2 separate regions of the Homo sapiens genome follow, and region 2 is linked to region 1. The links come from fine-mapping of genetic effects on gene expression. A gene starts in region 1. The other region holds a variant in brackets. All regions are shown on one strand. Distances are from middle to middle.

Region 1 (5,375 bases):
AACTGCCTCTTCCCATTATACCTGGCTATCATAATGTAAAATGTAATAACCACCTTTGGTTTTTCTACACCAATTGGGACTCAGAATTAGTTGTAACACAATGGAAGGAATTCTCACCTCTCCACACCTCTGAGGCACAGCCTCTCACTGAAGCACTGTTTCTCACACTGCTGGGGAAGGAGTGAGGGTATGGATTTAGAGATGGTCACAAGAGGAGAAGAACTGCTTCCTACAAAAAAAGCACCCACAGAGATGGATACGCTCTCCCACATAAAAAACACTGCTACTGGGGAAGAGTCCTCATGTCTGTAGAGCGTCTACAAACATTAACTCATTTAATCCGCATGGCACCCTGCAAAGTAGGGCGTTATCTGGCTTTACAGATACGTAAAACTAGGATGAAGTAGCTAGTGAGGGGTAAAGCTGAGTTCAAAATCTGTCTTTTTTTTTTTTTTTGAGACAGAGTCTCACCCTGTCGCCCAGGCTGGAGTGCAGTGGCATGATCTTGGCTCACTGCAACCTCCACCTCCCTGGTTCAAGCGATTCTTGTGCCTCAGCCTCCCAAGTAGCTGGGATTACAGGTGCCCGCCACCATGCCCAACTAATTTTTTTATTTTTAGTAGAGATGGAGTTTCACCATGTTGGCCAGGCTGGTCTTGAACTCCTGACCTCAGGTGATGCACCCGCCTTTGCCTCCCAAAGTGTTGGGATTACAGGCGTGAGCCACTGCGCCCAGCCAACCTGTCTTTTTACTACATTATGTGGCCCTGCTATTCACAAAATCAATCAATTGCCCAGGCATGGTGGCTCACGCCCGTAATCCCAACACTTTGGGAAGCCAAGGTGGGAGGACTGCAAAGGCCAAGAGTTCAAAACCAGCCCAGCCAACATAAGGAGACCCTGTCTCTATAAAAAATAATTTAAAAAACAAAATCAACCATCAAGTCCTGTTAAAAGTATAAAAATCTCACATTTCTCCCTTCTACTCTGCTCCTGCAGTTTCTAGCTTAATCCACGTCTTCCTCACTATCCTTCATTTGCACTTCTGTCACCAACATGTGTGGCAGTACAGGTAAAACAGTTCAAAGAACTGGCTCTAAAAGTCGCGAAAGAATTTGAAACTCAGCTAGCTTGCTGTGCGATGTGGAGCAAGTTATTTAACCTCTTTGTGTCTCAATGTCATCATCTAGAAAATAGGGATAAGTACCTCCCTCATGGATGGGGTAAAAGGATTAAATGAGATAATGTGTTTTTCTTGGCCTTCAAAGTCTCTCCCCACTCATCCATCCTGTTATCTACTGTTCCCAGTGCAATCTTTGTTCATCTCTTCAGCACCCTCTTCGTCTAGCTCAGGGTCTGAGTAGGTCAAGGGGAGGATTTCTCATGAGGTGATGTTCTCACTCTGGCAGATCAAAAGGCTTTATTTGCTGGAGTCCAAAAAGAGACAAGGAGATTGCAAGGGAGACGGTGAATGGGGACGTTCTCTCTACACTCAAATCTATCCCAATCTTTCCATCAGCTGTTGATGACCACATGAAAACACAAGCCTGCATTCTTCTAGTCAGATGCATCAGGTGGTATTTTAAACTCTTGTCTGAAAGTCTTTCCCTTCTCCCGTAACACACACAGAGATAATCACAAAATAACAAAACATCAGTGTTGGAAGGAATCTTAGGACCCATCCTAACCTCCTCATGTTGCAGATAAAGAAACCGAGGCCTAGAAACTAGACATAACCTGCCCAAGGTTCCACAGCTATGCAAGTCAACCAGGACGATACAATCACCTTAGGAAGGGGAAAAGGCAGCAATGTGGTTTTGGCCAGTAATCTTTACCTTAAAGCGTATTACACACTCCCTGTAACTGCACACTCCGGTGCGTCCAAGTGACAAACCAGAAAACTTACTCTCCTTTGAACAAAAAGCGTGAGTTTCACGATACAGAGCCATTAGCCATTGATACTTCTCCCCTCAGTAAAATAAATCCACCCACAAAAAGCACAAAATTCCCAGCAGGGACATATACCAAAATAGGAAGTCTAAAATTATACTGATTTAGAAGACAGCTGAGATAACCATTAAGGAAGACCATCTTCACTGCAACCCACTCTCCCACCCACTCACCGCAAAACAGAAGGAAATGCTCTTTAGTAGATTGGGAAAGGTCACTCTCCCTGTTTGCAGGGCTCACTGACCACAAGAATCAACGCAAAGACAACCAGGGCACTGAAGGGTGAAGGGAGAGCAAAGCTGAACAGTGAGGGGCAGATCCGTGATTGAAGTGGTTTGAGAAATGGCAGGAGGAACAGGGCACTGGAATGACAGAGGGCTGGAGCGAGGGTCAGCAGGGCGCGCGGGTCAGAGGAGGAATGGAGGGTCAACAGTGGCTTCAGTGGGTCAGTAAGGATTCAAGGCATGAGTAGAGGAGGTTAGGGGGTCAGAAAGGTCCCAAGACAGAACAGGTAAGGGGTCATAGGGAACAGGGTCCCGCACAGAGAAGAGCCGGGAGGGTGTGCGCGCGCCGCGGACCTCCCATTGCTCCAGAAGACGCGCCATGTCTGCATCATTGTAATCGCGAATATCCTTCTTCTTCTTCCGGGGAGGTGGGGTAGACTCGTCGGGCGTCCCGGGCGAGCCTTCGGCCGCGCAGGACCCAGGCGGTGGTAGCAGTAGCAGCAGCAGCAGCAGGTCAGAGGCACAAAGCAGGACCACGGCCTTGCGCGCCCACCTGGAAGCCGCCATTTTCGCTGCGCCGCGCAGCGCCCTAGACGCGCTTACCCGACCTGCGCGGGCCGGACCCCGCCTTGCACACGCCTTCCTGTCCGCCTTTCCGAGGCCCCGCCTCCCGGCCCTCGCTAGCCTACCGGGCCCCGCCCCGTACCATTTCCTAACCCCCGCCTCTGGAAGCCCCGCCCCTCCGCCATTTTGGCCCCGCCCCACTGGCTCCTCCTCTTGGTCCGGCTGAGGCGCTCTGTCCCGGCTGGGTGGGTCCCTGAGTGCTCATTTTTCGTTTTCCGTCAGAGGCCGACCTTTTTCTCTGGAACGCACAAGCCAGGTCCAAAAGTTCCTTCAGGGCCTCCAGGAACCACTAACCAACGTCCCTGTTGACCTCAGTTTCTCGCCTGTGAAATAAATTGGAACTGGAAGTTCTGGAGGCTGCCTCGGCTCTAAAAAAGCCCATTTCTGGATGTCGGACGTTTATCCTCAGTCTCTTGCAATTTCCTTTGAGAACAGCCAGTTAAAAAGAAGTGAGTGGCAGGTAGGGCAACTTTTTTCAGAAAGTCATAAATAGTTCGAGTCCACTGCTTTCCTCATCAATAAAGAGGATTCAGTTCAACCAGCTTTCAATATTTGTTTTTTTTTTCCAAAAAGATCATTACTATTCATCCAAAAAAAAAAAAGCTTGCCTTTCTTTGATTTCAACCTAATACTGTAGGCTCTAACTAATCCTTTTCAAGGCTGAATCACGCTACTTTTTGTTTCTTAAAAAGATTTTGGCCAAAGATGCTTTGAGATTCTTCTTGTTTTAAACGGCTCATCAGCTGATGTCTTTAAAATGTTTAATTACATAAGACCTTAAAAAACAAAAAACAAAAAAAACCAAAGGCCGCACGGTGGCTTAAGCCTTTATAATCCCAGCACTTTGGGAGGCTGAGGTAGGACGATAATTTGAGTTTAGGAGTTTGAGACCAGACTGGGCAATAAAGCAAGACCCGCATCTCAAAAACAACAACAAAAAACGCTTCATTCTTTATACTGCTGCACAGTTTTATTTGGTATTGTTAAATTAATAGTTTATTTTCCTATTGATGGGCATTTATTACCAATTTTTCTGCTATTACAACAAAAAAGAGCTGTAGTAAACCTTATTCAAGCCTTGTTTGGATAGGATTAGTAGGCTGCATATAAAAGAAAACTGACTTTTTAAGGTGGTTTAAACAAGATAAAAGGTTTTATTGTGATTGACTTTTCTTTCACAGAAGCAGTGTAAACTCGAAACTAGGGCTGGTATAGTGGCTTCTCAGCCATCTGGTACTCAGCCTCTTCCTCATCCTTCTATCATATTAGCCTGTGGCTTCCACCCTCAAGGTCAGAAATTCCAGGATGGCTCCTGGAGCTCCAGTCATCAAGATGACATTCAACCAGAGGAAGGGAGAAGGCAGGCCAAACCAAGCACACCTTTCAAGTGGAGTCAACTTCTTTTAAGCAGCCTACTTGAACATTGCATACATTTCTGTTTACATCTCATTGGCTGGAACCTAGCTCTCCAAGGGAGGCTGAGAAATTGTCTTCTAGCTGTATACATTGTCATCTCAAATGAAATTAGGATTGTTATAAAGGGAAAAGAATAAAGTGGAGGTTGAGTAGGCAACTACGCCTGCTTTCCTTCACTCTTAGGACCAGTGCAATTTAAATTCTCTCACACCGTAGGAGTGGCTGATATTCTACATATTCATGCATGCATCTGTATGTAAACACGCTAAGCTATGACCTTTCCTATTGACGTTGAGCAGAAACAACTCATAAGAAAAAGATTTTTTCTTTTGTGAAATCATAGGGGAAATGTCATGAGCTTTCTCCCCAGAGCACATTGCTCCACCCAGTGGCTTGGAGCCCTATCCTAGTGCAGTCATACTAAAAAACATGCACAGCTGTGGCTGATCATGTGCTCTACTGGGAGGGGTCACCCTGGTAATTCATATTGCCAGCTTCAAAGTTAAGGGGCAAACGTGTTGGGATTCTTGGCCCACATATCTAGTTATAGAGAATAAGATCATTGAAAGTTTTACAGAAATTGTTGGGAATGTGTAGAAAGTTTCAGGGCTACTGACTTTCCTCTAAGGAGGAAATCAATTCGGCATATAATCCACTGATATGAAAACATCTGGATCAATTGCATTTTCAACATTTGGATATTTGAAACTTACTTTAGTGTTTGGAACTTGATTCCATTCAACTTGGGGGGAATTTTATTTACCAAAGACCTATTGTTAACCAAGAATCAGGTGAGGCACTGATGCAAAAATGAATATAACAATATCCTTACTCTGGCAGAGCAGATAAACAATATGCAGTAAATTTCATGCAGATTACAGGAGATCCGGGCCCAAAGGGATGATGTGATGATGATGATAATCTCTCCAATTTAAATAAGAGGAAATCCTGGTTTTACAATTACACAATTTGTCTGAGGCTGCACAGCTAGTGCAGCGGCAAGGCAAGAATCTAAGCCGAGGTGTACTGGATAACAAGGTCCAGTCTTCTTGGAGTCCTTCTTCCGCCACAGCACCATCTAGGTTAATCAGTGAGGCACTCAGGATGGTTAAATTGGGAGCCAAATGGAAAATGCATTGAAAAGTCTGGAGCGAGGAGCAC
Region 2 (5,375 bases), 52 kb before region 1:
AGCCTTGATTTTCCTTCCCACACTTTCTTTCTGATATGTTGCTTATCTTCTGTGAAAAAAAAGCTCATCGTTAGAGCTTGCCAGATTATCATAACTGGCAACTGGTTATTAACGGTTATTCATAATATTTTCCCTTCACTTTACATCTTACAAAATGCTTTAATGTACGCTTTACCTTCTGATACTCAGGGCAACTTCCTAAGATGGGCAGGGTTGGTTCTCTTTCCATCTTATATGCGATAAAACTAGAGGGGAAGATAAGCACTTCCTTCCAAAAGCACAACATCATTGCACGTTGGTGTGATTGTCTCTCTTGGCCACAGTTATGGGGATATTGTCTTATGAATTTGGGATGTGCCATAAAACAGGACATGGCGTTTTTTTTGTTTTTGTTTTTGTTTTGAGATGGAGTTTCGCTCTTGTTGCCCAGGCTGGAGTGCAATGGGCAATGGCGTGATCTCGGCTCACTGCAACCCCCGCCTCCCAGGTTCAAGCGATTCTCCTGCCTCAGCCTCCCTAGTAGCTGGGATTACAAGCATGTGCCACCATGCCCAGCTAATTTTGTATTTTTAGTAGAGGCAGGGTTTCTCCATGTTGGTCAGGCTGGTCTCGAACTCCCAACCTCAGGTGATCCACCCGCCTCGGCCTCCCAAAGTGCTGGGATTACAGGCATGAGCCACCGCGCCCGGCCAACACAGTGTTTTAAACCAATGCTGGGATAAAGCATCCAGGCTCTTAGGTCCCTGGAACTCAATGGCTGACAGTCTTGCTTTCAGTTTTTCCTCTGAAATGAGGCACCATTTATTCATGCAGTGTGTTGTGGCACCACAAGGACTGGCCTCAGGGGCCAGACACTGAGAGGGAGTAGGAGGGAGAAGTAGGCCAACACACCCAGGCACTCTCTAAAATCAGGCAGAGCAACTGCCAGTTATAGGCGAGTTGCATTTTATGGTAGAATTAAAAAAGTTCTCTCTCTCTCTCTCTTACTCCCTTCCTCCTCCGTCCACATCTCTGTCCTTTGTCCAAAATTTGCCATCTGACTATTATGCAGACTCTTCTCAAATTTCCACTGGAAGCTCAACAGAGCACTTTTATGAAGATGAACAGAAAGCATTAGCTGGATTACACAGTAAGGCCTGGGCTGCGTCCATCAGCAGAAAGAGATGTCCCCTTATTTGGCCTTTCTTTCATTCAAGCCTTCTAAAAAGGGTTCTGTAAAGAGAAAGTGCCTTTGAAAGTGCGGTCTATAGTCAGATGTTAGCCAGACGCTCTTGGAATAATCCTTCGTAATAGCCTCATTGTGTGTTTCCTTTTTGGGTTTTAAAAGATGTACATTCAAGCCTACAAGACCAGTAACCTGCGAATGAAGATCATCAAGAATGACTTCCCCAGCCACCCTCTTTACCTGGAGGGGGCGCTCACCAGGAGCACCCATTACCAGCAATACCAACCGGTTGTCACCCTGCAGAAGGGCTACACCATCCACTGGGACCAGACGGCCCCCGCCGAACTCGCCATCTGGCTCATCAACTTCAACAAGTGAGTGGGTGTCCAGCCAGGAGCAGTGAGCTCAAAGCTGATAACGATGCCTTGTTGCAAAGTCCTGGACTTGCGTCTAACGAAACCACAGGCTAGCCCATGTGATCCATGCAGGAGTACCTAGAGGGGTTGACATCACCCAGGAGTTAAGAATTAAAGGACACAGGCCAAGCCCCCGCTCCAGCATGGGTAACCTTGGCCAGCGCACGTAACCTCTTGAGCCTGAGCTCCTTGATCTTTGAGTTGAGGATAGTATTACCTTGCAGGAGTGCAATGAGGACCCAAGGAGATAAGGTATGGCGGGCACCCAGGACCTGGCATTAGCCAGTGCTCGACAGATGACAAAAATATCTGGGTATTGTTGTTACCATCCTACAGAGAGGGAAACGAGGCTCTGCGAGATAAAGTGTTGAGGCCGAGGGCATCTGGATAGGGCTTCATATATTTAGATTCTAGTATTTTCTATGCACATTATTTACTTGTCACAGTATTTCTGTGAGACAGACATTTACCAGATGTGGGAAATGAGACCAAAGCGATGAAATCGGCCCTACAATCAAGCTGGACCCAGAAGGGGCTCAGCCTAGGTCCTTTGGATCCTGTGCTCTTTAACTACGAAAAGAATGTCTTTTTCCCAAAGTTCCATATGCAGCACCCCCAGGGTTGGCCCTGGAGACACACCA[G/A]TGAAGCATTCAGGCTCTTTGCTCATGGGCAGCCATTGTCTCTCCCTCTCTCCTTGAACACTGCAACTCAGTCACCACGACAGCAAATGTGCTTTCAAAATTTCCCATACAAAAGTGGAGGTGTCATTTGGTGGAGATTTTTTGGTCTCTTTCTCCAAGGCATGCTCCAAAGGCCCTGTGGCCTGGACACCCTTGCTTGTAACCTGACTCTACTTCCAATCCTAGGGGCGACTGGATCCGAGTGGGGCTCTGCTACCCGCGAGGCACCACATTCTCCATCCTCTCGGATGTTCACAATCGCCTGCTGAAGCAAACGTCCAAGACGGGCGTCTTCGTGAGGACCTTGCAGATGGACAAAGTGGAGCAGAGCTACCCTGGCAGGAGCCACTACTACTGGGACGAGGACTCAGGGTGAGCAGGCGCCCACTTGGCTGCAGGAAAGTGGCTCAACCTCATCTTGTCCCCTTGGCCTTTCCAATAAGTCTAAGAACAGCCATGTAGTTAATGCCAATTAATGTAAGACACCTTTCTAGGCATTTTGACTCTAAGGCTGACTGTCCCATACATTAACGACATTTTTAAAGCTATTAAGCTTTAAAAGTAAAATAAACACCCTATTAAATATACATGTGAATTGTAGGGAATTTACATATTTCAGAAAAAAAAAAGTGAAGGCAGTAAATCTTAGAATCCAGAAAACATGGTACATTATCTCAAATCCTCACAACAACCTGCTTGGAGCAGAGGATTAAGAGATGGGCAGCTGGGTGTGGTGACTCACGCTTCCCAGCACTTTGGGAGGCCGAGGTGGGTGGATCACAAGGTCAGGAGTTCGAGACCAGCCTGGCCAACATGGTGAAACCCCGTCTCTACTAAAAATACAAAAATTAGCTGGGCATGGTGGCGCGTGCCTGTAATCCCAGCTACTCAGGAGGCTGAGGCAGGAGAATTGCTTGAACCTGGGAGGCGGAGGTTGCAGTGAGCCAAGATACTGCCATTGCATTCCAGCCTGGGTGACAGAGAGAGTGAGAGATGGGCAAAGAAGGCACAGGGAAAATAGGAGAGACTTCCTGAGATCATAGCATAAAGCTGACCCAGCTGGATTTGAACCTAGATCTGTCTGTCTTCAAAGCCCTCACCCTTTTGCTAACCTGCACTAGGTTCTATTCAATAGAGATATAATGAAAACAGAGTATCTGTTTCTGGGAGTTCTTTGATCCCCTCTCTTAAAAAGAAATTTCGTCTAATGTCTTAAGAATGCCAACCCAGCTCCACAGCAACGTCGATAGCAAACTGTGAGGAGTAAGGGTAAAAGATCAGTTGATGGCCAGTTTTCTATTCTTATATGGAAGTCAATGATAAAGAAACTGATAACAGATGATCTATCTTATTTATGGCTCCATCAATTTGATTAAGGGAAAATTAAAATTTAGAATCAAAAGTATAAGTAAAATGTTGGGATGGGAGGGCAATAAAAAACACCTCTTTCCCCACACAAGTGCTACGCCAGCTGGGGGCAGACAAGCTGGCAGGGGAAGAGGAAGTGATCCACCTTACTGATGATAAAGCTGTTGGAGAATAGAGCTTTCCAATATCATCCCCAATTTTACCTCCTCCGCCCCAGGGAGCACTGGGCAATTACAGGCTCCCCACATAGGGCCCAGCCCGAAAACCTCAGAGCATGGAAGACAGACCAGAGTGCCCCTGCTCTACGGGCTGAGCCAAATACCCAAAACCAACCAATTATATGAGACACTCTCTTCCCATGGGAAGAAGTGGATGAGGGGAGGGCCCAGGGGCCAGGAGTATTTAGGAAAATCCTCCCATATGAATACCAGAGGAGGAGGAGTGAGATATGCCCCACATACCACTAGGAAATATTATGATTAAAGTAACAGATGTTGATAAGGTAAAGTCCCTGGGATACCATCCATGCAGATTTTCTTCTTTCCGGCTCATGAGTGAAATGTTCAAAAGATGTGAATTTTTCAAATGGAAACTTCCACTAAGTAAGTTGAACCTCTTTGATCAAAGTCTTAAAAATCTAAGGCTGGTCTGCTTGTCACCTTAAGCACATTTTTTGGTTGGTAGCATAGCTTAGCCCTATGCCTGTTGATCATTGTGTTGTGTTTCAATTCAGCAACGCCTTAGGGACCAGGAGTTGGGTTATAGGGGGTCTGTTTCCTATGGAGAAGGGCTGCAAACTCTTGGGCTTTTAAAAATCTTTCTGCCTTATACGTTTGTTGTTTCTTATACTCAGAGCACCTGCCTTTAGCAGCTACCTTCTAATAATCTACTATGGGCTAGGATACTTAACAACCAGCTTGCTATAATTAGGGGTAAAATTAAAATAAGTCAGCTAAAAGGGAGGGGATTTCAAAGTGTGAAATATATAAGCTCTGAATCATCTCTCATTTTTTCCAGGTTAAAAAAACTGTTAAGTGATTGTAGCTGTGTTCTGGATAGCTAAGTTTGCTTAATACCACCTCAGTGAATTCTTATAATGATTCTTACTAAATTATAAACAAGTACATTATTTAAGGTGCACAGCCATCAGTAGCGCTGCTCTGCAACATTACTTGGTCATAGCCAGGATTTGAGCACTGGGCTGGCAGATGCCCAGGCCCGTGCTCCTTTCATGCCTTCCAGGGCTTTGCAGTTCAGCCAGCTTGCACACATCCAAGTTGTAGGTCAGGATTAGGGAAGGCAGCTGCTACCTACCATGGGCTGGATGGTCTTTTAGGTCACTCCCAGTTTAGATAATCTGATATATAATGGCAACAAGGAAACCTGAATACTGTTAAGTTTTGTGCAGAAGCCTCAGGACCAATCCCATTTCTGTGCTTGGTCCCAGGAGTGGTTTGGAGCATGTTGGGAGCCTCCAGGGAGACGTGACCATGGGCAGCACTGAACTGCCTTCCTCCTAAGCTGCTCAAAGCGGGTGCTCACCTGCCTCCCCAGCTTCCCCACCACGCAGGGCATGGAATGCAGATATGGCTGCTCTGCTCTCAGCCCTGAGCACGAGGCCTCTGTAACAGTCAGTTTCTACTTTACTCTGAGATCACTTGATGTGGATGGCTTGAAACATAAAGCCTCTCAAGGAAGCTCAGATTAAGTGGAGGTGCTACAGAGAGAAGACCAAGGGGTCTTCAA

Alleles and levels. Alleles are on the strand shown, and positions count from the first base shown. SD is a standard deviation of normalised expression in the study named.
As copies of A replace G in region 2, the expression in nucleus accumbens of the gene that starts at base 2,769 in region 1 goes up (moderate effect, 0.49 SD a copy in GTEx).

What was found. PIP is the estimated chance that this variant, and not a neighbour inherited with it, causes the effect.
Region 2: its variant is the best candidate, but not a certain one, in a credible set for the expression of MESD in nucleus accumbens (GTEx, PIP 0.73).

The regions. Positions count from the first base shown.
Region 1 is chr15:80,987,051-80,992,425 of GRCh38, forward strand. MESD (mesoderm development LRP chaperone) reads right to left here and starts at 2,769. Exons shown (of 3, transcript NM_015154.3): 1 at 2,529-2,769. The coding sequence starts at 2,741. RefSeq lists enhancers at 1,850-2,464, 2,453-2,732, 2,465-3,078, 2,718-3,012 and a silencer at 2,763-3,042.
Region 2 is chr15:80,935,347-80,940,721 of GRCh38, forward strand. It overlaps CEMIP (cell migration inducing hyaluronidase 1), which reads left to right. Exons shown (of 30, transcript NM_001293298.2): 24 at 1,328-1,539; 25 at 2,448-2,633. Among named protein-coding and RNA genes, the nearest start is that of MESD, 52 kb to the right of the region's middle. The variant G/A (reference allele first, on the strand shown) is at 2,223.